6 separate regions of the Homo sapiens genome follow, and regions 1, 2, 4, 5 and 6 are each linked to region 3. Evidence: fine-mapped expression QTL. A gene starts in region 3. Each other region holds a variant in brackets. All regions are shown on one strand. Distances are between the middles of the regions.

Region 1 (4,149 bases), 81 kb after region 3:
GATAAAGAGGCATTTAGCAAAAAATGCAGTTTTCTAGCTGGGAGTGACAGCTTCATAATTTTTCATTGCCTTTTTTTTTAAAAAACAATGATTCTTAGCTAAATTCTTTTGTCTTGAAATGGCCAGCAACCACCACTGCAGACCTCAATCTATGGTACGTGTCAAACCATTCAACTTTTTCTTGTAATGACATGACTTTCCTCTGCTTCTTGGGAGCACTTCCATCGGCACTAGTGGCACTTTCTAAGAGTCCCATGATGTTCTTCGCAGTTTACGGTATTGCACTAAATATGAAAAATACGTAAGAAACATGAGAGATCACTTTTTACCGCAACATGCAGTTTACTAGAGAGACAAACTGCTCACGTGGAGATAATTAGTGTCACTACAGATACTCGCAACATGTGAGCTCGCTGCAATAGTAACAGGAGATGGGTACAAAATTATTTTAGTACAGTATATACTACAGTTGATTTTATTCGGTTATGATTTATTGCTGCATTTTTATGTTTGTTTACCTCTCTCAATTGCAAACGGTACCATGTACAGTCTGTGTTTGTATAAGTTTTGATACATTTTAACTTTTTATAATATAATAGATTTGTGTAAGTTCTGGATAATGAAAACAGAAGTGGTAGGTGCAGCTTCCATGATGTCTCCTTAAAGGTGGGGCATGTCTTTCCCTTTCCTTTCTGCAGTTGGAATGAATTCTAAATGCCTGGGCCCCACAGCCCATCTGAATGTAGCAGGGCCACTTCTTAGGGGCAGTGGAATAGGATGCTGGAGGAAGCCTGGTCAGGAAGGAGGGCATGTAGAGTAGAAGGAAAGGACACACAGAAAGATTAGATAGAAGGGAATGAGCTGGCAAAGGAGATGGAAAAGGAGCCACCAGGGCGACAGGAGGGAAAACCAAGAAAACATTTCCACAAAGAGGAACTGGGCAACTGCTATGAATACTTGAGTAAGAGATGAGGAAAATGCCGTTGAGTTTGACAATGTGGGGGCCTTGGTAAGGCCACTAAAGTGGTGAAAACATAAGTGATACTGGAGTGAGCTGAAGGGTGAGTGGGAAAGCAGGAGATGACCTTGAAAGGGACAGAAAATGTGGGGTAGAGGGACTCACTGGAATGGATATGGAGTGAAGGGAAGGTGTTCCCAAGGTACGGGAACATGTTTGCGTGCCAATGGGAATAATCCTACTGAAAGGAAAAGAGAGGCAAGGTCTTGAGAACACACAAGTTGATGAGATCCAGAGCAAATAGAGATTGGATGTCTGCAAGGTGGGGGGACACTTCCTCTGTGGTAAGAGGAATGAAAAAGAAAATGGGATGTATGTGTGGGTAGGTTTATAGATTTAGGGTGCAAACATGAGGGAACTTCTATCTAAAGCTTTCCATTTTCTCCTGAAATGTTTAACAAGGTCGTTAGCTGAAACCTCACAGGTAATAAGGTCCTTATCCTCCCATATCTTGTCAGTCCCTTATGTTTCTTGGTTTTTTGGTTTTTTGAGATGAAGTCTCGCTCTGTTGCCCAGGCTGGAGTGCAGTGGCGCGATCTTGGCTCACTGCAACCTATGCCTCCCAGGTTCAAGCAATTCTCCTGTCTCACTTCCCGAGTAGCTGGGACTGCAGGCGCATGCCGCCATGCCCAGCTAATTTTTTGTATTTTAGTAGAGACGGGGTTTCACCGTGTTGCCCAGGCTGGTCTCGAACTCCTGAGCTCAGGGAATCCACCCTCCTCAGCCTCCCAAAGTGCTAGGATTACAGGCGTGAGCCACCGTGCCC[G/A]GCCTGTCCCTTCTGTTTCTGCTTGTGTCTGTAAATGCTCTGAGAAGAGTCTTTCCTAAACTTTAGACGGATTCTGTAACTGCCTTAAAATCCTTCAGTGCTTCCAAGGCACAGAAGGCACGTCACGCTTAGGGCCCAGCTTTCTTTCCTAGACCCATTTCTCAACAGTTATCTACCTGTCTTCTGGACAAAGCCAGCCACACAGTTGCCCTGAAACAATTTGCCCTTGCTGCTTCTCAGCCTACAAGCATGCTCTTCCAACTGGCTGGCCCTGTCCTTTTTTCCCTACCTGGTGAACTCATTCTTCAAGACCCATTTCAAATACCACATCCTTTTAAACCTCTTTGATTCCGCTACCCCATTCCAAGCATGGTGAGACACTAAGTCTTTTAGTTTGTCCTTTTCAGGAACTGTAGCTTATTCACCTGGATCTAACACGATGTATGTGGTAGGCAGTAAGTGAATACATGAATTTTGATTTCTTTACCCATTTCTCTAGCAATTCTAATGAAATTAAAATGAAATGAAAGTTATATACTCTTAGTCTTTGATGCGAAGAAAACGTTTCTTTTTCTTTGTTCTAGGTGGTTCTGGAATGGAGCCGAGATCAATACCATGTTTTGTTTGATTCCTATAGAGACAATATTGCTGGAAAGTCCTTTCAGAATCGGTAAGATCTATTTTGGAGAAATCTATTATTTGGACCTAAATCGTAAGTCATGAAATAGCCATCCTGTAAATATGACAGTTTAAGGGGTCTTTCTGAGTTATAGATATGGTTTAATTTACTCAGGAGTATGCCCATCTGATGTGTTCACTTTAGCAGCACATATACTAAAAAAAAGGAAAAAAAAACTGGAACGATACAGAGAAGATTAGTGTGGCCCCTGTGCAAGGGTGACACACCAATTCATGAAGTATTCCGTAAGATATTTTTTTAAAATAAGGAAAGAAAATATGTCCATCTGAAGAAAAGTGTGTTCACCACATTTTGTGGGTGAAAAATCTGATTCACAGAGAGTAATCCCACCTTGTAGTTTATTGGGTACCTTAAATTGCATGATTGCATTTTCTGTCTCCCCAGGTCTGTGAGGTAAAGGGAATTTCATCCCCCTGTAGGATGAGGAAACCAGGTGGCTACTACACAGCGGTTTCTGAGCCCTGGCCGGAATTCTGTTGACAGCGTCCTGTGAAATGGGACCACTCCCCAGTAAACCACTGGGGCTGAACCCCACTCCATTGGTCACTCTTGCTGCTTACCTATGAGGGAGGAGCAAATAGCCTCATACCTCATTAGTGTGGGTCTTTCCCTTGGAAGGCCAAGCTTCTTAGTGCCGCCATTCTGGAACGCAGTCTTCACCATTTCTTGTCTTTGGGGATTTTTTTTTTCCTCTTCACAAGACAGACCTCAGAATGGAAACAATTTTTTTCAACACCCTCCTTCCCTTTTTGCAGATAAAATGAATCACACAAGTCCTTTCTGGTTTTTGTTTCTGTCTTCTCACTATTTTTTTGGTTTATTTTAGAAAATGTAGTAATTTCATTATAAAAGGTGTTTATTTTATTTTATTTTATTTTTATTTTTATTTTTTTTTGGAGACAGAGTTGCACTCTTGCCCAGGCTGGAGCGCAGTGGCACGATTTCGGCTCACTGCAACCTCTGCCTCCTGGATTCAAGCGATTCTCCTGCCTCAGCCTCCCAAGTAGCTGGGATTACAGGCATGCACCACCACGCACAGCTAATTTTTGTATTTTTAGTAGAGACGGAATTTCGTCATGTTGTCCAGGCTGGTCTCAAACTCCTGACCTCAGGTGATCCACCCGCCTCGGCCTTCCAAAGTGCTGAGGTTACAGGCATGAATCACCGCTCTCGGCCTATTCTCATTTTAAAATGAATTAAGTATTTTTAAAATGTTTCAGTTTTATTTTCAAATATGGCAAATGTGGATAATTATAACCTTATAAACTAAAGCACTTTGGGGTCCATACTAATTTTTTAATTTTAAGGGACCAAACAGTAAAAGTTTGAGGACCATTCCTTAATATAGCAGTTCTGAAACTTTAGCTTGCAGTGGAGGGCTTAAGAAAATAACAGTTACTTCCCAGCCCAGAGTTTCTGCGTATAGGTTTCAGAGGGGTTCTGAGAATTTGCACTTCTACCAAACTTCCTGGTAATACCAAAGTTGCTGGTCTGGTGCCCCCACTGTGAAAACTACTGCATTAAAGGATTTTTAATGAAATATAATTTTCACTTTAACAAGTTAATTTCCCTAAGGAAAGTTCTAAATTGATTAACATTTTAAAATCAGATATTTATTGATTTGTGCCTTATGCTGTGCCACGTGCAGATGGTGCACAGATGCAT
Region 2 (4,000 bases), 41 kb after region 3:
AGCCTTCTTTTCCAGATTCCATTGTGAGCCACCGTGCCTGGCAGAAGCTGGTTTTTGAAAAGATTATTTAGGCTGGGCACAATGGCTCATGCCTGTAATCCCAGCACTCTGGGAGGCCGAGATGGGTGGATTGCCTGAGCTCAGGAGTTCAAGACCAGCCTGGACAACATGGCGAAAACCCATCTCTACAAAAAATACAAAAATTAGCCAGGCATATTGGTGCACACCTGTAATCCCAGCTACTCCAGGGGCTGCAGTGGGAGGATCGCTTGAGCCCAGGAGGTCGAGGCTGCAGTAAGCCAAGATGGTATCACTGCACTCCAGCCAGGGTGACAGAGAGACCCTGTCTCTAAAAAAAGAAAAGGTTATTTAGGCAAAGGGAGAAAAGATACAAAGAAGTAGTAGACAAAATGAAGCAAACAAACAACCAGAGTCAATAATGATAGAAATAACAGAGGTTTTAAAACCAAGTTGACATTAGTATATTCCACTATATAAAAATGATCCCAAGCTAGAAAGTTTTCCAAATGAGCTCTACCTCAAAACATAGGGTTATTCTCTATATCCTTTAATAACACACTGTAATTCAATTCATCAAAACTTTATACAACTCTGTGATTGGAACTTTTTTTTTTTTGAAACAGAGTCCCTCTCTGTCGCCCAGGCTGGAGTGCAGTGGCGCAATCTCGGCTCGCTGCAATCTCTGCCTCCCAGGCTCAAGCAATTCTCCTGCTTCAGTCTCCCACATAGCTGAGATTACAAGCATACACCATCACACCTGGCTAATTTTTGTATTTTTAGTAGAAATGTGGTTTCGCCATGTTGGCCAGGCTGGTTTCGAACTCCTGGGCTCAAGTGATCCACCCTCCTTGGCCTACCAAAGTGCAGGCATTACAGGTGTGAGCCACCTCAGCCAATGGTTGGTACTTTTATCAGTGCAAAATATATTAATTCATGTAATAAATTTTTATCAATTAGTTTCTATTGGCAAGACACAATGCTAAGATTAGGGATACATTTCTGGATAAGATGGGTAAGTCTCTTGCCTTTATGTTGCTTATATTCCAGTGGATGAAATGTACAAAAAAACCCACAAGTAAATATCACATAAACAGAATAAAGTATGGTTGGGCCTGGTGCGGTGGCTTATGCCTGTAATCCTAGGATTTTGGGAGGCCAAGGTGGGCGGATCATCTGAGGTCGAGAGTTTGAGACCAGCCTGGCTAACATGGTAAAACCCCATTTCTACTAAAAATACTAAATTAACTGGGCGTGGTGGCACATTCCTGTAATCTCAGCTACTTGGGAGGCTGAGGCAGGAGAATTGCTTGAACGTGGGAGGTAGAGGTTGCAGTGAGCCAAGATTGTGCCATTGCACTCCAGCCTGGGTAACAGGGCGAGGCTTCATCTCAAAAAAAAAAAAAAAAAAAAAAAAAGGACAAAGTATGGTTACATTTATGTGAAAATTAGGTATTTTATATATATGTGATGTGTTTGAACTCACAAAAAAGTTAACAGTGAGCCATGTTATGTTTTGGCTCTTGAAATTCTTCCATCCAAGTACTAACCAGGCCCAAACCTGCTTAGCTTTAAGGAGATCAGATGAAATTGGGCGCCTTCAGGGTGGTATGGCCATAGATTTGGCTCTTGAAATTCTGTCAGAGGCTGGCTGCGGTGGCTCATGCCTGTAATCCCAGCACTTTGGGAGGCCGAGGCAGGCGGATTACCTGAAGCCAGAAGTTTGAGACCAGCCTGGCCAACATGGTGAAACCCCATTTCTACTAAAAATACAAAAATTAGCCAGGCATGGTGGCAGGTGCTTGTAATCCCAGACACTTGGGAAGCTGAGGCAGGAGAGTCACTTGAACCAAGGAGGCGGAGGTTGCAATGAGCAGAGACCATGCCAAAGCACTCCTGCCTGGGCATCAGAGTGAGACTCCATCTCAAAAAAAAAAAGAAAAAAAAAAAAAAGAAAAGGAAATTCTATCAGAAACAGTTAAATTACTTAATAATTTTGTTTGCACTAGTTTGCAAAAATTAAAAGCCATCCTCACTTTCTTTTTAAAATGTATTTAATTTTATTCCAGATTGAAGGGATACACATGCATGTTTGTTAAATGGGTATACTGAATACTAGTAAAGATTGAGCTTCTAGTGTACCCATTACCCAAATAGTGAACACTGTACCTGACAGGTAATTTTTCAAATCTCATCACCCCCCAACTGTCACCTTTTTTGGAGTCCCTGGTTTTAATTATTAATATTGCCATTTTTATGCCCATGTGTACCCGTTGTTTAGCTCCCACTTATAAATGAGAACATGCAGCATTTGATTTTCTGTTTCTGAGTTAGTTCACTTAGGATAATAGCACCCAGCTCCATTCATGTTGCTGCAAAGGACATAATTTCATTCTTTTTTATGGCTGTCTGGCTTTCTTAGACTAAAGAAAGGA[A/G]TAGGATGACTTACAACTTACATGTCTATGAATATACACTAAGGGAGGGAATAAAATCAAAATGTGTTTCCTGGGAACAAGCAAGATTTTCAAGCCTAGAGCTTAAAAGGAAAGCATTTACAACATGAACATTTTATCTTCTTATCATTAATAAAGGAAGGACTTAATTAAATATACACTTAACAGGAGGTATTTTAACTTTAATCAGCTACTGAAAGCTCTTTAATTTTCTTATGACCTCACAGTGAGGCTTTTGAAGCACACTATTTCTATACACAAAATATGTGTAGGCCTGGGACAAGAGGTCCCTGATTGAGCAAGATTGTTTTCTTTGGATGTTCAGTTTTCACCCTGGCTAAGCAAAGGGAGACTCAAAGATGGTAAATGTTTTAGGGTCCAATACATAAAAACATTCTCATTGTCTCCTGAGTTTTGAACCAATTGAGAAGATCATGCAAGATACAGGCAGATGAGGATCAGCTTTAATATTAATGAAATTAACTGCAGAATGTTGTTTTACATCTATGGACAAGGGGATATATAGGCTAATACTTCATCCCTGACTCAGATACACTTTCTAGGCACTGGCTTGGGCCAAGGGACAGGAATTCCCATGCCTGGTCAAGAGTGGCTCAGAACATCTGCAGCAAATAAAAATACAGGACACAGCTGGGCACGGTGGCTCACGTCTGTAATCCCAACACTTTAGGAGGCTGAGGCGGGTGGATCACCTGAGGTCAGGAGTTCAAGACCAGCCTGGCCAACATGGTGAAACCCTGTCTCTACTAAAAATACAAAAAATTAGCTGAGTGTGGTGGTGGGCACCTGTAATACGAGCTACTCAGGAGGCTGAGGCATGAGAATCACTTGAACCCAAAAGGCAGAGGTTACAGTGAGCCAAGATCACGTCATTGCAATCTGGCCTGGGCAGTAAGAGCGAAACTCCATCTCAAAAAAATAAAATAAAATAAAAAATACAGGACACACAGTTATATGTGAATTTCAAGTAAATAAAGCTTTTTAAGTATTGCATGGGATTTGCTTATGCTAAATGTATGTGGCTGCTTATCTGAAATTCACATTTAACTGGGTATTTTATCTGGCAACTCTACTATCACTGGTCTCATTTCAACTCCTCAGGCCCCCTCCAATACATTTTCCACGCCACAGTTATGATAACTCTTGAAATTCATTATCTGATTGTGTCATTTGTTAGACTTTATTAAAATTCTTCATTGTCTTTAGGATAAGGTCTTTCATTCTTGCTATGGCCTTTAAGATCCTGCCAGACTCTCTAGTTCCATTTCATTGCATCTCCAGCCCTTCTTGCCTTAGATTAGGCCTTCCATGTGGCCAGCCTTGCCTGGAACATAGTTCCCTTCCCACCCCACATCTTGAGTCCTCCAGCTCAATCTTTAGTATCACCTCCTCCAGGAAGCCATCCCTGACCTCCCAGGCTAGGTTAGTGCCCCTCACAATACTAATCCAATATATATATGCCCCTCCAGAGTGTAAATCCCACAAAAGCAGGGACCATGTCTTTCTTG
Region 3 (4,149 bases):
CTGAGATGTGCCATGAGAAACCAAGCCTAGGTTTCTTCCAAGCATAATACCAGATGGGAGGGCCAGGCGTGGTGGCTCACGCCTGTAATCCCAACACTCTGGGAGGCCAAAGCAAGGGGAATGCTTGAGCCCAGGAGTTTAAGACCAGCCTGGGCAATATAGTGAGACTTTGTCTCTACTGAAAATAAAAAATAATAACAATAAATGGAAAAAACCGAAAGGCCAGATGAGAACATCTTGATATACATAACATCTCCTTTCATAGGCAAAAACCACCATCATTACTGCAAATTTGCACTATTCTACCTATTGCTGTATTCCCTGCATCTTGTAAATGCTGGTTCCCTGGGAACACTGGCTCACACCTGTAATCCTAGCATTTTGGGAGGCCAAGGCAAGAGGATCACTTGAGGTCAGGAATTTGAGACCAGCCTGACCAACATAGTGAAACCCTGTCTCTACTAAAAATACAAAAAAATTAAGCCAGGTGTGGTGGTGCACGCCTGTAATCTCAGCTACTTGGGAGGCTGAGGCAGGAGAATCGCTTGAACCCGGGAGGCAGAGGTTGCGGTGAGCCGAGATTGTGTCACTGCACTCCAGCCTGGGCGACAGAACAAGACTCTGTCTCAAAAAAATAAAAAAAATTTTAAAAAATGCTAGTCCCCTCTTGCTCGATCTTTGTTTCCCCTTTCTCCACACTCCTCACCCCCACCCCCAAAAAAAGGAAAAAAACAAACAAACAAACAAAAAAACACAGAACATTGCTCACCAGACAGAATGGCTGCAGGGAAGAAGACGCCCTACATTTTCTATCATAGCAGTAACAAACCTTGGGTGTCACCAACCTTATCATCCGTTCACCAACCAATGCCTGTCCAGAGGGGTCACACTACTTAGATAAGGATGGATGGTTCTAACGTTTAAAGAATCCTGCCACTATGAGAAAGGCACTGAGCTGGAACCCACATAGGAGGATCAGACCACTGTCCCTGGCACTGAAGTGCCCCTCAGGAAGGTAGAGGCCAAAGCACAGGAAAAGTGAATGGGTAAAATAACACAAAAGATGTCACAAGTTGTTGACAAGTTGAGGACTTTGGGGTCACAGTGCCCAGAGGTGTCTGGTGCAGCTCCAGAGAATTTAAGCCAGACTCCCAGAGACCTGGGGGCAGCACAGTGTTGCTTTCTGCATGGCCGGGTGTGAATTCTGCTCCTACCATTAACTAGTGTGACATCAGTGTCACGTTGATGATATTTCATCAACTTTACACCACCGCTCGCTTGCGGGAATAATAAGCCCAAACATCCACTTCAAGGGATGTTGGGATGCAGAAGTGAAAATAGTGGCTGTTTAGCATATACCTGGATCTACCTCTTGTATAATATATGTCATCTATCAGAACCCATCTTGTTTCAATATCGCCTAAGAACGTCCTGCTGAGATTCTGTCCCATACCCAGAATGAAAGCTCTACCATCTATCCTGAACCTCTCCTTGCTGCCACCCTGTTCCATGCTCCGGGTACAGGCAGAAGTGCTCAGCGCCGCACCCGCTGCCTCCCTAAACATCCCAGGCTATCGGGAGCACCTCTCCTCCTGCTCCCACCTCTGCCTGACCACACGACGCCCCAAGCTGGGTCCGGACGCCTTCCCTCCCCGTCGGCAGCGCTCCCTGTGGTCCCTGTGCCTGCTCCTGGGGCCCTGACGCCCACCCTGCCACTCACCTGATATACGGGAGGAAGGGGTTGACGTGCCCGGAGAGCACGGCGACCACGTAGGAGATAATGAAGGCGGCTGACGACCAGGTCACCAAGAGGAAGGGGACGAAAGCCATTCCCCTCAGGAAGCACAGCATCGCGCCGCCGCCGCCGCCGACGGAGTGCTGCGCCCAGCGGGGCCGGGCGCCGGGTTGCTCCGGGCTGCCTGGAGGCGGCGGCCGGGCGCGTACACTCACGGACGGTGGGAGGGGAGGCTCCGCGACGGCCGGGGCAGGCCCAGCCCCGGAGGGAGGGGAAGCGCGAGGAGCGGAGCGAGGCTGCGGGCGGCGAGGCTGCCGGGCCAGAGTGGGTGGGGCGCGGGCTGCCCGGGCTTGTTGCGAAACGAGTGAAGTCACAAAGCGGCCCGGCAGGGTCGGAGGCGCCCGGCGAGCTCCAAGCGGACGCGACTACGGAGCCGCCGGAGGGGACGCGGGGTCGGGTTCCTTTCGCTTTTGGTTTGGACACTCGGCGGAGGCCGGGTTGGGCGCGGACGGGCGGCGTGGGGTCACTGGCGGGGACGCCCGCTCTGGCCTTCCCACTCTGGCCCTACCGCGCTGGCTCTTGCGCAACTCTGGAGAAAAGGATTTATTTCTCCCAACCCCTCCCTCCCGGGGGATTTCCGGAGTGCCGGGCCTCGCACCCCGAGGGCGCCCCCTCCGAGGTCCCGCCGCCGGCGCTTCGCAGCAGTGAGAGTGGCCACCGCGTGGTGACACCCATGCCATCCGGTCGCGCTGCTGCTGCGGGGGTCGGGCAGAAGTGTTCAATGAGGTTCGCCAGGTCACGGGGCGCAGATGTGGCTCCCACCTCAATGGTGAACACCCGAAAACCCAGACAGGGTGGGAACGGGTGGGGTGGAGAGTACGCGGGTGGGGTGCGGGGCAGGCGGGTGGGACTGCGCGCCCACGGAGCCGGGAGGCCCATTGTGCTGCTTTCCAGGAGAGCGCAACTGGAGAATATTTCCTGGAAATAAGATTTCCCAGGCCGGGCGCCGTGAATAGCCATCACTTTGGGAGGCATCCAAAAGCCATCACCCCTGGAATGCCACCACTTTGGGAGGCCGAGTTGGGAGGATCGCTTGAACCCAAGAACTAGAGATCAGCCTGGGTAACATAGCGAAACCCCTCTTCTACAAAAAAAAAAAAAAAAAATGAAAAAGAAAAAAAGCCGGTTCCAGTTACTCGGGAGACTGAGTTGGGATGATCACTTGAGCCTTGGGGGTCGAGGCTGCAGTGAGCCTTTATCACACCACTTCACTCGGCCTGGGTGACAGAGCAAGACCTTGTCTCAAAAAACAAACAAACAAAAAAAAAACAAAAAAAACTCCCCTCCAGGTTCTGGAGTAGCCCAGACTCGGAGCCTTGGCCTAAGATGATTAATAGTGACTTGATACATTTCAAGCCCTGTGAAAGGGATTTGTGTTCTGGAGGCACTTATAATATAAGCACATGATTTTGATAGTTTAGGGAGTCTGAGCCCAACATATGTGGCCAAAATTGTTGGGTCATTGGTGACCAAAGATAGGTTCCTTTCAGCCACAAACACATTTCATGGGCGCCATGCTAGGCTACAAAGATGAAATAGTAATAGTACCCTCAGGACGAGGACACTCATAGATCAAAATAACAAAATTAGGCCAGGCGTGGTGGCTCATGCCTGTAATCCTAGCACTTTGGGAGGCCAAGGTGGGTGGATCACCTGAGGTCAGGAGTTCGAGACCAGCCTGGCCAACATGGTGAAACCCCATCTCTACTAAAAATACAAAAAATTAGTCAGGCATCATGGCTCACGCCTGTAATCCCAGCTACTCAGGAGGCTGAGGCAGGAGAATCGCTTGAACCTGGGAAATGGAGGTTTTCTCAGTGAGCTGAGATCACACCACTGCATTTCAGCCTGGGTGAGAGAACGAGACTCTGTCTCAAAAATATAAATAAATAAAAACAAAATTATGTTATGTGGTTTATTAAATGGAAAGGAGAGGATTTTAAAAAGTAGAGACATGCCCAGAGCTGAGGGCCAGGGGCCTGGGCTCAGAGGAAGGACCACGGAGGTTTTCTGACAGATGACATCAGAGTTTTCAAAAGGAAGTAATTACTAACCAGGCAAAGAAAAATAAGATTAGCATTCCAGGCCCAGAAAACAACTGGAGGAAATGCATACACAGAGCTTGCTTCCCTGGGACTATGAAAGCACTTAAATAAGTGTGAGGCAGCAAATGGAGAGAGAAACAAAGAGGCAAAGTCACCAGAGTCCTGCTGAGAATCTTGGATTATTTTTGGTATTAAGGAGAAAGTAAGAACATGGGCAGACTAGTATTTCAAGAGATCACTGTGGCCGTGGAGTGAGTGCCCGCCATACAAAACAAAATAGAAAATTTAAAATAAGGCTTTTTAAAAACC
Region 4 (4,000 bases), 41 kb before region 3:
TGTCCGCAATTTAAAACATTTGAATTGATAAACACCTACCTGGAAATCTTGGATGAAAGTTAGGAAGTAGAAAATAAAACCAAAGGCCACTGTCCATTCACAGATCGCACTCACTACGTGATATACATAATCCTAATGCAATAATAAAGAAACAGAATTTAGCCGAAAAAGACTCACTTTAATGTACATACTGAAATACAATGAGGAGTTTCAACCAAAGGAAAAAGCTGTCCAGTGAGCATAAGTCAGAACTTTGAGGATATACGGTAAGCACAACCACGTTACTAAGTGTCAGGGCACCTGCCCACTGAGAATGCGAAGGCAGGTATTCCAAAGTTCTTTCTGGCTCGCACAAACTCTTGTTTTAAGATTTAGTTTGTCACTTCAAAAGGTAGACTAAGGACTGCAAAATGGCTGAGACTGGGAAGCAAATTTGGACTCAACAGAAGAAAGAAATTTCCATACAAGGCATGACTTGGTCTCGCTCTGCTGAGAATCCCTAAGTGTAAGGCTATGCTTAACAAGCACTCTCGCAGTTGTTCCAAAGAAAGTGTGTACACATCTAGATGAACTTGGCCAACTAGTCCCCTAGGTTTCGTGTTTCCCTGTTTATATAGAAATGATCATTCAGGAAATAGTTCTGCTTAACATCCCAAGGTAAATACAGCTACAAAGAAAATGCTAATAATGGACATCCACATGTTAACTGTATATCTTCTTGGAGGCAAGAATGGGAGAATGGAAGCCAAGGAGAATGGCTTCAATCAGATGTTCCAAACTCAGTTGCCTATGGAGGCCAGAAAATTAACAATAATAAATAAAACTGATGGTTGTGAAAAGAGAGGGAAGTTAGGGAGCCCACGCCTCATCAGCTCAATTCCATGGGAAAATAATACACTAGTGTTGCTTTCAAAGGGGTTTAAAAAAACAAAACCGTGTGTGTGTGTGTGTGTGTGCGTGTGTGTGTCTGTGTGTCTGTGGATGTGTCTGTGTGTGATATCTCCTGATTTTTCAGTGCTGGAAACTAATTTTAAAACTCTGTTGCAATGGCTCACACCTGTAATCTCAGCACTTTGGAAGGCTGAGGCAGGAGGATCACTTGAGCCCAGGAGTTTGAGACCAGCCTGGGCAACATAACGAGACAAAAAAAAATTAGCTGGGTGGGGTGGCCTGCGCCTGCAGTCCCAGCTACTTGGGAGGCTGAACTGGGAGGATCACTTGAGCCTGGGGGATAGAGGTTGCAGTGAACCATGATTGCGTCACTCTACTCCAACCTGGGTGACAGAGCAAGACTCTGTCTCAAAAATAATAATAATAATAATAAAATAAAAATAAATAAAACTCTGAGTCAAATATGCATGTCTGCATTCTGATGTTAGCTCACATGCCAAATGAGGCCTGGGGACTGTCAGTGTGCCCCCTCTGATTTCCTACGTCACTTTCTGCTCTGCTGAAATGAGCAACTACCCCTAACTCCCTACACCCCCATGCCTTCTGAAGCTGCATACATGGGCTGCTCTGCCCTTGGCATGTGCTGTTGAGGGCTGAGCCCACTGCTCTTCTACCCCAAACTGCTGTAGGCTACAAGGGTAAGTAAATGTGCTGGATCACAGGGCAGCTCCATGGTGACAGTTGTTTTCTTTGATCCTGTTTTCATCCAGACAGATCGAGTGGAGGCACACCAAGCCCTCCGAGCGTCACTCTTCACTCTCCTTGTCATGGTCACACTCACCCACTGTTTTCATGCTAGGTCACACCGAGGAGGACCTGACCAGCCTACAGTAGGAGATACAGAACAGAGGCTTCCTCCTTCTGGTACCAGTACCAGGGGACCTGCCACATCCCGTATCATCCCTGAACAAGGAAGATGGCTTCTAAAAATAAAGGCAGAACTTTGGGGGGAATTTCTTAAGCATGATATTAGTGAAAGTACATGGAACCAAGAGTCCTGAATGCAGGCAAAGCCCTAATATCCTTGCTATGTGAAATGAGACAGTGACATTATAATTCTCACCTCCCCCTACCAAGTAAGTCACTGCATATAAATGTGCTGTGAAAGCTGTAAAGCACTACACAGAAGTTTGAGGCAGTACCTAAATGATTATTCAGTGAATTAATGTAAAGGGAAATTTTTTTACATCCTTTGATATTAGGAACAGAAGGAAATGCAAGAGTGGCGCAGTCATTTATGGAGTGAATAGAAAACCATGTGCTTTTCACATTTTTAAGATAGAAAGTGGAATATAACAGATTTTTAACTGCCTGGGAATATACTTCGATAAGCCCTTCCCAGCAGCGGGTTTGTGATAGAAGGTC[T/G]CCCCCGAGTGGCTGAAAAGTAAAGTACACCTGAACTGCTCCGCTATGCGGTCTCACTTTCAGAAAGAGGTTCTCTCCAACGGAAAGAGGAACTGAACCCCCTTCGCATGATGGGGCTAATTCCCCATATATAAGAAAGAAAAAAACCTGCCTTTTGCCTAGGTCTAACCTATTGACGAATTTGACCATTTTAAGGTTAGATTTTAAAGAAGGCTTTTTTTTTTTTTTTTGAGATGGAGTCTCACTCTTGTTGCACAGGCTGGAGTGCATTGGCATGATCTCGGCTCATTGCAGCCTCCAGCTCTCCAACTCCTGGGTACAAGCAATTCTCCTGCCTCAGCCTCCCAAGTAGCTGGGACTACAGGTGTGTGCCACTACACCAAAAATTTTTTTTTTTTTTAGTACAGACAGGGTTTCGCCATATTGGCCAGGCTAGTTTTGAACTCTAGCCTCAAGTGATCCACCCGCCTTGGCCTCCCAAAGTGTTGGAATTACAGGCCTGAGCCACCGCACCCGGCCAAGAAGCACTTTTTGATCTCCTGTCTGGATCATTCTCTTCCTCACCATCTTCTGTCTCTCTCTTGTCTTGGCAGGCTTCCATTACCTGCCAGAGTTCTCCATATTGGGAAATCCTGCTGTCTCCTCTAGCCACCCTGGTGTTCCTCCTTTACCTCTTACCTCCAGTCCAGAACAGGACTCAATAAACATTTGGTTGATAGCTGAATGAAAGAACCATCCCTCTCACTATTTAACTTCTTGCCATTGGCTTCTAACCTCGGCGTTTTACTGAAACTACTTTTTGACAAACATCACTGACTCCCTTATTGCCCAAATTGAGGGACTTCATTCCTAAAGGCTATTCAGCTGCATATGCCATAGTTAGCCATTTCCCTTGCCTTTGAAAAATGTCCTTTAGTCTCTGGGATCGTATCTCCTCTCATTCCATCGTTAGGATTAATTGCTATTGCTTCTGCATTTCCACAATGTGTTGTCTGAAGTCCAGTTCAGCATTTTTTTATTCTTCAAAGTATTACATTTAGCCATTGACAACTGGCTGTTTGCCCCTCTGAACTATAAAATCCCTCAGGATCCTCTATCCCATGGCCACCCTGCCCTCTATAATCTTTCACAGTCTTGCATGTGGTAGGGACTCATCAATGAGGTCTACCATACAGCACAAGTCTAGTTCTTCTCTCTGGTCCATGATCCCTTTACTTCTCCTTTGCTGGAGGTATTCTTCCACCTGATCCTTGGGGGAAAGAATCCTCTGTCTCTCACTAACTCTCTTCTTTCCTGGGGCATCCTTGATTCTCCTATAAGGCGTCTAGATGAACCACTACTACAGGTATCTAACAGGATGGGTTGATCTCAATGTCAAACATTTGGTTCCATGTGTTCTGATGCTTGGTCCAAAATGTCCTGGTCTACCCCATACTCTAACAACTCTACCCTACACTCTGACGACTCCCAGTCCCACCAGAAGTCTAGGCCCACCGGAGTGCAAGTGATCCTTCCACCTCAGCTTCCCAAGTAGCTGGGACTACAGGCGCATGCCACAACGTCTGGCTAATTTTTGTAGAGGCAGGATCTTACTGTGTTACCCTGACTGGTCTTCATCTCCTGGACTCAAGCAATCCTCCTGCCTCAGCCTCCCAAAGTGCTGGGATTACAGGCATGAACCACA
Region 5 (4,085 bases), 51 kb before region 3:
TGAGGACTTCTTTTACCCAGCCCTGTGATAGCCTAGATGGTCCTTTCCCTGGGCCTCACCATGACTTCTCCTTTGGGAAGTCCAGACAGACGGACGACAACCCCCAGTCCCTCTTACCGCACCATCCAGAAGCAAAAGATACCAGGAGTTGAGAGTCATAAGAACCCACACCTCACAGCCACCAGAGCCTGAATCGTACTGAAAGCCTGCTGCACCCTGTCTCACTGCGCAGTGGAATCCTTGGCCTCTTCAGTGCTCCTCCTCAGGCTGTGGTGGTTGCAGGAGAACTGATATGGCTTGGCTATGTCCCCACCTAAAATCTCATCTTGAATTGTAATAATCCCCACGTGTCAAGGGGGGCCCAGGTGGAGATAATTGAATCATGAGGGCGGTTTCCCCCATACTGTTCTTGTGATACTGAGTTCACACGAGATGTGGGGGTTTTATAAGGGGCATCCCCCCCTTTGCTCGGCTCTCATTCTCTCTCCTGCCACCATGTGAAGAAGGATGTGTTTGCTTCCCCTTTCGCCGTGATTATAAGTTTCCTGAGGCCTCCCTAGCCATGTGAAACTGTAAGCCAATTAAAGCTCTTTTCTTTATAAATTACCCAGTCTCTGGTACGTCTTTATTAGCAGCGTGAGAACTGACTCATACAAGAACTGATCCCCATTCCCACCAAAGACCAGGTGTATCATACAAACCCTCTCTTACTGTTTCTACTCCTGATTCCTATCACCTGCTCCCACCCCCACAATTCTTAGATGCCCAGACTTCAACCAGGACCTGCCGTTTTGAAGTGGCAATCCAAACATTTCACCCATTTTTCTAAACTTGCCAGCTTAAGGGTTTCATTTCTCAAGGCCTTATATTATATAACCCTAGAAAAGCTGACAAATTAATTCATACTCCTAAGGCAGTGACTGGGAATCACACTGTCAGCATGGCAAAGGTTAACCGTAGGAGTCACAGTCCTGGGTTTGGTTCTAGCCCCATCATTTGGTATCTGGTGACAACCTCGCTACATCTTAATTTCCTCATGAATAAAATAGGGTTAACTATGAGGAAACGCCCTCCTTACAGTGTCTGTGATATAGGAAATAATCAGTATTAACAGAACATAAGTGATCATGTAAGCAGATGAAGAAATATCCTTAGTTTTTAGGTGAAAGTCCCTGAATACCTGGTACTGAAAAAATTATGATGCCTCCCCATAGGTAATTCCAAATAATATTTTCTTTTTCCAAATGACATAAAGGATACATTTAGGCAAACATAAAGCTGATTATTTCCAAGTCAATTTTTAAGTTTCTCAAAGGTAAAGTTTCTTTCCTCTCTCTCTCTCTCTCTCTCTCTGACTACTGAATTGCTGGTGTCCCCCACTCATTGAGTCATTCTGCAGTAACCACCAAGCTACAAGGTCAGGGAGGATCAAAAGGTCTGTGGGTTGCCCCTGGTGTTCTGTCCTGGATCACTTTGCCAGAGAGGAGAGAATATTGTGCTTGATTGTTGATGTCTGTAAAAATACAATCGTCTCCAGCTGGGCATGGTCGCTCACGCCTGTAATCCTAGCACTTTGGGAGGCCGAAGTGGGCGGACCATGAGGTCAAGAGATCAAGACCATCCTAGCCAACATGATGAAACCCCGTCTCTACTAAAAATATAAAGCTTAGCTGGGCGTGGTGGCACACGCCTGTCGTCCCAGCTACTCGGGAGGCTCAGGCAGGAGAATCACTTGAACCCGAGAGGCGAAGTTGCAGTGAGCCAAGCTCGCACCACTGCACTTTAGCCTGGTGACA[G/C]AGCGAGACTCCATCTCAAAATTTAAAACAAACAAACAAAACAACAACAACAACAACAAAAATACATCCTCTCAAAAGATAGGGAAGAAGTGTAAGACAAGTAACAGGACTTCAGCGAGATACCAAAAAGGAAGTGAGTACAAACTGGAAGAGGCATTGACAAAACTTTTGCAACTAATTGCAAAAGTTTGCAAGATCATAATGAAAAACCCAAGTGAACTGGAGACACTCTTGCCCATAAAAAGAAGACATGTCCGGGTTGGGGTAGGAGGCAGAAGATAGGTGAGTTCTGCTGTCAGCAGAAAGAGGAGCACACAGCCTTGCATTCCCTGCAGTAGGTGGTTACATAAAAGAGGGAACAGAAGAGGTGTGTGTAGAAGACCCGTGACCAAGTTGGCAGGCCTCTGTCCCACACCATCTACTGCAAAATCCACATTTGCACCTGATCTACAGTCATGGATGACTGAGTCACCAAGGAAACATGAACTTATATTCAGCATCCTCAGGTTAGAAGAAAATGTGTGTAATCACAAAGATTCCTGGCTTGTCCGAGTGCAGTGGTGTTTACAACTAATTGATCGCAACCAGTTACAGATTTATTTATTTTAGTTTAGTTTTCTTTGAGACAAAGTCTCGTTCTATAGCCTAGATTGGAGTGCAGTGGCACGATCTCTGCTCACTGCAACCTCTGCCTCCCCAGGCTCAAGCGATACCCCCCTCTTGCCTCCTGAGTAGCTGAGACCACAGCTTGCACCACCATTCTTGGCTAATTTTTTAAATTTTTTTGTAGAGATGGGGTCTTGCTATGTTACTTAGGCTGGTCTTGAACTCCTAGACTCAAATGATCTACCCGCCTCAGCCTCCCAAAATGTTGGGATCACACGCGTGAGCCACCATGCCCAGCCCAGTTACAGATTTTTTTCTTCCTTCTCCACTCTCACTGCTGCACTTGACCAGCCTTTAAAAAAAAAAAAAAAGAAAGAAACAAAAAAGAAAAAGAGGTTCCTAACAAAAATATTCAAGTAAAAAAGTTCTAAAGGCAAGATAACATTTGCAAAATAACAGATGAAGTTTCCAACATCCCACTCACTGGAATTTGTCCTAGAGATTTCCTTGCACATGTGTGATATGATGTATGTACAAGGTCATCTACTTGTAATTGCAAAAATTTGGAAACCACATAATTGCTCATCAGATAGGGAACTTGCTAAATAAATGATGGCACAGCCATACAATGGAATACTGTAAGGTATAAAACAAAGCAAATTAACCTTAAAAATGAGGGAGATCTCTATGTATTGATAAAGGAAACATCTCCAAGATACATTGCTATGTCAAAAAAGTAAGGCTCAAAACTGTTCTTACAGTATACTAATTTGGGGTGAAAATGAAAAGGAAAACGTTAAAATATTTGTTTTGGCTTGTATTTTCATAAAAATCTGATAAAAAGTGGATACCTAGGCTGAGCACAGTGGCTCACACCTGTAATCTCAGCACTTTGGGAGGCCAAGGCAGGCGGATCACTTGAGGTCAGGAGTTGACCAACATGGTGAAACCCTGTCTCAACTAAAATACAAAAGTTAGCTGGGTGTGGTGGTGGGCACCTGTAATACCAGCTACTTGGGAAGCTGAGGCAGGGAGAACTGCTTGAACCCAGGAGGCATAGGTTGCAGTGAGCTGAGATCATGCTACTCCACTTCAGCCTGGGCGACAGAGCAAGGCTCTGTCGTTAAAAAAAAAAAAAAAAAAAAAAAAGTGGATATCTGCAAGGAGAGAGTGAATTGAGTAAATGCAGGTAGGGAAAAGCAAAAAGGCTTTTCACAGTATACCTTTTCATATTGTTTTGAGTTTTGAATTGTGAAAATATTACTCAAATTTTTTGAAATAAATGGTTCAGGGGGTGAGGGTTGTGAGTGGGGGCAGCTGAATCCACTTATATAAAAATGATCTTTCCTGTGAAGGCAAGTCTGTACTGAAAAAAAAATGCAAAAGAAAAAAATGAAATAAAAATGACTCTAGATGATAGTTGTTTACTGTATTTTCATATTAGGGGAACTCTTGTGTATCCATTATCAGTCAGGACTCTTACAGGTAAAATCATCTGAAGTCTAACTCCAGTTTATTGAAGTTAGAGACTTTATCAGCTCATGTAACTGAGTCGTCCAGAGGTGGAACTGGCCTTGAGGATGGTGGGGCACAGAGCAGTGCTCCTTGCTGAGGAACTACCTAAACCACAGGCTTTCCAGGCACCCCACGCCACCCCGTCTTAAACCACAAGGCAGATTGTTG
Region 6 (4,149 bases), 25 kb after region 3:
ATTCAACAGTGCAGACCTCCCTTGATGACTTGGAAGAGAGTCAAAAGACCCCTTTTCAGCATCCTTTTTGGGGAAGTGAAAGGTAATTGAGTGTGACCTGCCATTGGGTCACCATGAGGAAGTGGGTAGACAGGGACCTGATAACCTCTACCACATGTCTGAGGGAGGCAGTGGCTGAGCCTTGAAGGGATGCAAAAGTGAGGTCAAGTCACATTTGTAGATCAATGGGCCCTACCACAACTGATATGGTTTGGCTGTGTCCTCACCCAAATCTCACCTTGAATTGTAATAATCCCCAGGTGTCAAGGGCAGGGACAGGTGGAGATAATTGAATCATAGGGCATTTTCACCCATACTATTCCTGTGGTAGTGAATAAGTCTCTCAAGATCTGATGGTTTTATAAAGGGCAGTTTCCCTGCACAAGCTCTCTTGCCTGCCACTGTGAAAGACATGCCTTTGCTCCTCACTCGTCTACCGCCATGATAGTGAGGCCTCCCAGCCATGCGGAACTGAGTCAACTAAACCTCTTTTCTTTATAAATTACCCAGTCTCAGGTATGTCTTTACTAGCAGTGCGAGAACAGACTAATATACGCCAACCAAGAGGACAGACCAATAGTCATACTGCACACTCTAGCAGCAAATGTCCCCAGTGTCCCAGTGGCTGAGCATAACCAGGGTATCAATACTAAGTTGAGCAAAAACCTTGAAGCCTACAAGGATTCCAAAGCCTATGGAGAGACTCATTTATGGGTAAATGTGCCAAGAGTGCACATGGCTTGCCCATGGAACCCTGACACCTTGAAAAGTAAGAGAAAGAAGGATGAAATGGCTCTGATGTGGAGTTAAATATTAGATTATTTAATATTTACTCAGCAAGAGATAATCTTAACCATCTTGCAGAGACTAACGGACCTTTATTTGACAAGTTTAACTCCTGCGGCATCCTACTTCTCTGCCTTCCTCCTCCCTCAAACCAAATGGAGTTTACTGAGAATGTTTAGATCAATTATAAACAGAGACAAAGGAGTAACAGTTGTGGCCTATGGGAGTTGCGGTATTTAAATTTTTAACCTTATGCTGAGCATGGTGGCTCACACCTATAATCCCAGTATTTTGGGAAGCTGAGGCAGGTGGATCACTTGAGGCCAGGAGTTCGAGACCAGCTGGGCCAACATGGCAAAACCTGTCTCTACTAAAAATACAAAAAAAATTGGCTGGACGTGATGGCTCCTACCTGTAATCCTAGCACTTTGGGAGGCCAAGGCGGGCGGATCACCTGAGGTCAGGAGTTCGAGACCAGCCTGGCCAGCATGGCGAAACCCCGCCTCTACTAAAAATACAAAAATGAGCTGGGCGTGGTGGTGGGGAGCCTGTAATCCCAGCTACTTGGGAGGCTGAGAGAGGAGAATTGCCTGAACCCGGGAGACAGAGGTTGCAGTGAGCAGAGATCGCACCACTGCACTCCAGCCTGGGCAACAAAGAGCGAAACTCTGTCTAAACAAAAAAAAAAAAAAAAAATGAGCTGGGCGTAGGGGTGCAGGCCTGTGATCCCAGCTACTCAGGAGGCTGAGGCAGGAGAATCACTTGAACCTGGGAGGCAGAGGTTGCAGTGAGCTGAGATCACGCCACTGCACTTCAGCCTGGGTGACAGAGGAACACTGTCTCAAAAACTAATAATAATAAAATAACAAAATGAATAAATAAAATTTTAACCTTATAACACTTGCTATGTATCAGGCACCATGCTGAGATCTTTATGTGCATTATCTCATTTGATCCACACAGCAGCCTTGTAAGTTATTATTATACCCATTTTACACATGAGGAAACTGAGACTTAGAAATGATAAGAGGAGACCTGGTATCAAGTCACACTGATTGATTCCAGAGGCTATGTTTTTGATGTTTCCCTGTAGGTCTCTATGTTTTCCCTGTAGGTCAAGTAGGATACTTAATGAAAGAATAAACACTTCAATCATCACTGATTGATTGAGGTTTTATATACCACCCTAAACTTTTATGTCTCTGAAATTCCAAGTGTCATTCATTCATTCAACAAATATTTTTGAGTACTTACTATGTGTCAGTCCCTGGGCTTAGCAATAGGTGTATAATGGTTAATAAACTGCATTTGACAAAATCGGGGTGGTCACCCAAAAGGAAATCAGGATCTCTTGCCCTGATGTTGAACCTAAGTCAGTTTTCAGACCTGGTACTGGTGGACTGAAGAGGTGGCCAGGTCCCCAGAATAAAGAACCCTGAAACATCATCTTGAGTATATTCTGTAATGATTTTCAGTCCTTTATCAAAAAGACCAGTGGTCATTTACTGAGGTAGCTGTGCACTGGGGAAAGAGGAATACCCAGAGGCATTCAA[G/C]GACTATTCAACACGGACTGAGCTGACACTGAGATTTGGAGTCCTGAAGCATTATCATGTGTTGTTTGTCTTTGTCTTTTAGTGTTTAAGTTAATAATAGGTACATCACACACTTAACATATATGAGTTTCAAACATTTTTTCAGGGCTGGGTGTGGTGGCTCATGCCTATAAACCCAGCACTTTGGGAAGTCCAGGTGGGCAGATCACTTGAGCCCAAGAGTTCCAGACCAGCCTGGGTGACATGGTGAGACCCCATCTCTAGAAAAACAAACAAACAAACACACACACACACACACACACACACACAAACCAAGAAATTAGCCAAGCACGGCTATTTAGGAGCTATTTAGGAGGCTGAGATGGGAGGATCACTGGAGCTTATGAGGCGGAGGTTCCAGTGAGCTGAGATCACACCACTGCACCCCAGCCTGGGGGACAGAGTGAGACCCTGTCTCAAAACAAGCCACAAAAACAAAAACACAAATTTTAAAAATAGATCTAGATTTGTCATTCTTCAAAATAAGGTTTTAATTGGTTTTAGATTTTCTTTTTTTTCTTTTTTTTTGTTTTTTGAGATGGAGTCTTGCTCTGTAACCCAGGTTGCAGTGCAGTGGTACGATCTCAGCTCACTGCAACCTCTGCCTCCCATGTTCAAGCAATTCTCCTGCCTCAGCCTCCCTAGTAGCTGGGATTACAGGAGCACGCCACCACGCCCAGCTAATTTTTGTATTTTTAGTAGAAACGGGGTTTCACTGCGTTGGCCAGGCTAGTCTCGAACGCCTGACCTCAGGTGATCCACCTGCCTTGGCCTCACAAAGTGCTGGGATTACAGGTGTGAGCCTCCATGCCTGGCCAAATTTGCATTTTTTAGGCTACATTATTTCTAGCAGATATAGATTTATTTCCAGTTTAAGACAAAAAGACATTGTGCATGATCCAGTATGTTGTAAAGATTCACTTACTGCCTTTATCTAATAACTTCTGGTTTTTCATAAAATACTGACATCTTAATTGGAAATTTTTTTCACATAACTAATTATTTGTTTGCATTTTCAGAAATGTATAAAAGATCAATCCAAAGTTCAGAATAATCTCTTTTTTTTTTTTTTTTGAGACGGAGTCTGGCTCTGTCACCCAGGCTGGAGTGCAGTGGTAGGATCTCCGCTCACTGCAAGCTCCGCCTCCCGGGTTCATGCCATTCTCCTGCCTCAGTCTCCTGAGTAGCTGGGACCAGCCAGCGCCACTGCACTTCAGCCTGGGCAACAGAGCTAGACTCAGTCTCGAGGAAGAAAAAAAAGAGAAGTTTCTGTGTAATCTGCCCCTTAATTTGCAAGTAATTAAAGGTGGATATAAATATGACTGTGGAACTGCCTCTGAGCTGCTACTCTGGGCACACTGCCTATGGGGTGGCCCTGCTCTACGACAAGCAGTCCCTTTGCTGCTGCTGTACACTGCCAGTTCAAGAAAAGTTGCTATTTAACACCACCAGCTCACCCTTGAATTCTTTCCTGGGTGAGGCCAAGAATCCTCCCAGGCTATGACCCAATTTTTGGGCTCGCCTGCCCTGCATCAGTACAAACAGACCCTGGAAACTACTCAGCAGTAAAGATTAAATAACTACCGATACATGAAACAACATGGATGTATCATAAAAGCATTACGCTAAGCCAGGCACAAACGCTATTCACTGTATGATTCCATTTATGTGACATTCTAGAGAATATAAGACTACAGGTACAAGAAATCGATTTCCAGAGACTCAGAGTGAA

What was found. PIP is the estimated chance that this variant, and not a neighbour inherited with it, causes the effect.
Region 1: its variant is fine-mapped to the expression of DRAM1 in blood mononuclear cells (TOPMed, PIP above 0.99).
Region 2: its variant is fine-mapped to the expression of DRAM1 in whole blood (TOPMed, PIP above 0.99).
Region 4: its variant is fine-mapped to the expression of DRAM1 in blood mononuclear cells (TOPMed, PIP above 0.99). The same link has a PIP of 0.9 or more in whole blood.
Region 5: its variant is fine-mapped to the expression of DRAM1 in tibial artery (GTEx, PIP 0.98). The same link has a PIP of 0.9 or more in aorta and tibial nerve.
Region 6: its variant is fine-mapped to the expression of DRAM1 in whole blood (TOPMed, PIP above 0.99).

The regions. Positions count from the first base shown.
Region 1 is chr12:101,794,982-101,799,130 of GRCh38, reverse strand. GNPTAB (N-acetylglucosamine-1-phosphate transferase subunits alpha and beta) reads left to right here. Exons shown (of 21, transcript NM_024312.5): 2 at 2,369-2,454. It also overlaps the pseudogene RNU6-172P. Among named protein-coding and RNA genes, the nearest start is that of GNPTAB, 34 kb to the left of the region's middle. The variant G/A (reference allele first, on the strand shown) is at 1,785.
Region 2 is chr12:101,834,457-101,838,456 of GRCh38, reverse strand. It overlaps the pseudogene RNA5SP369. Among named protein-coding and RNA genes, the nearest start is that of GNPTAB, 5.5 kb to the right of the region's middle. The variant A/G (reference allele first, on the strand shown) is at 2,454.
Region 3 is chr12:101,875,492-101,879,640 of GRCh38, reverse strand. DRAM1 (DNA damage regulated autophagy modulator 1) reads right to left here and starts at 2,061. Exons shown (of 7, transcript NM_018370.3): 1 at 1,721-2,061. The coding sequence starts at 1,851. RefSeq lists enhancers at 1,175-1,224, 1,365-1,454, 1,093-1,874, 2,035-2,084, 1,875-2,657 and silencers at 1,675-2,014, 2,265-2,424.
Region 4 is chr12:101,916,241-101,920,240 of GRCh38, reverse strand. It overlaps DRAM1 (DNA damage regulated autophagy modulator 1), which reads right to left. Exons shown (of 7, transcript NM_018370.3): 6 at 40-132. Among named protein-coding and RNA genes, the nearest start is that of DRAM1, 41 kb to the right of the region's middle. The variant T/G (reference allele first, on the strand shown) is at 2,317.
Region 5 is chr12:101,926,097-101,930,181 of GRCh38, reverse strand. No RefSeq gene overlaps it. Among named protein-coding and RNA genes, the nearest start is that of DRAM1-AS1, 36 kb to the left of the region's middle. The variant G/C (reference allele first, on the strand shown) is at 1,797.
Region 6 is chr12:101,850,878-101,855,026 of GRCh38, reverse strand. No RefSeq gene overlaps it. Among named protein-coding and RNA genes, the nearest start is that of GNPTAB, 22 kb to the right of the region's middle. RefSeq lists a cis regulatory region at 18-235 and an enhancer at 1-244. The variant G/C (reference allele first, on the strand shown) is at 2,379.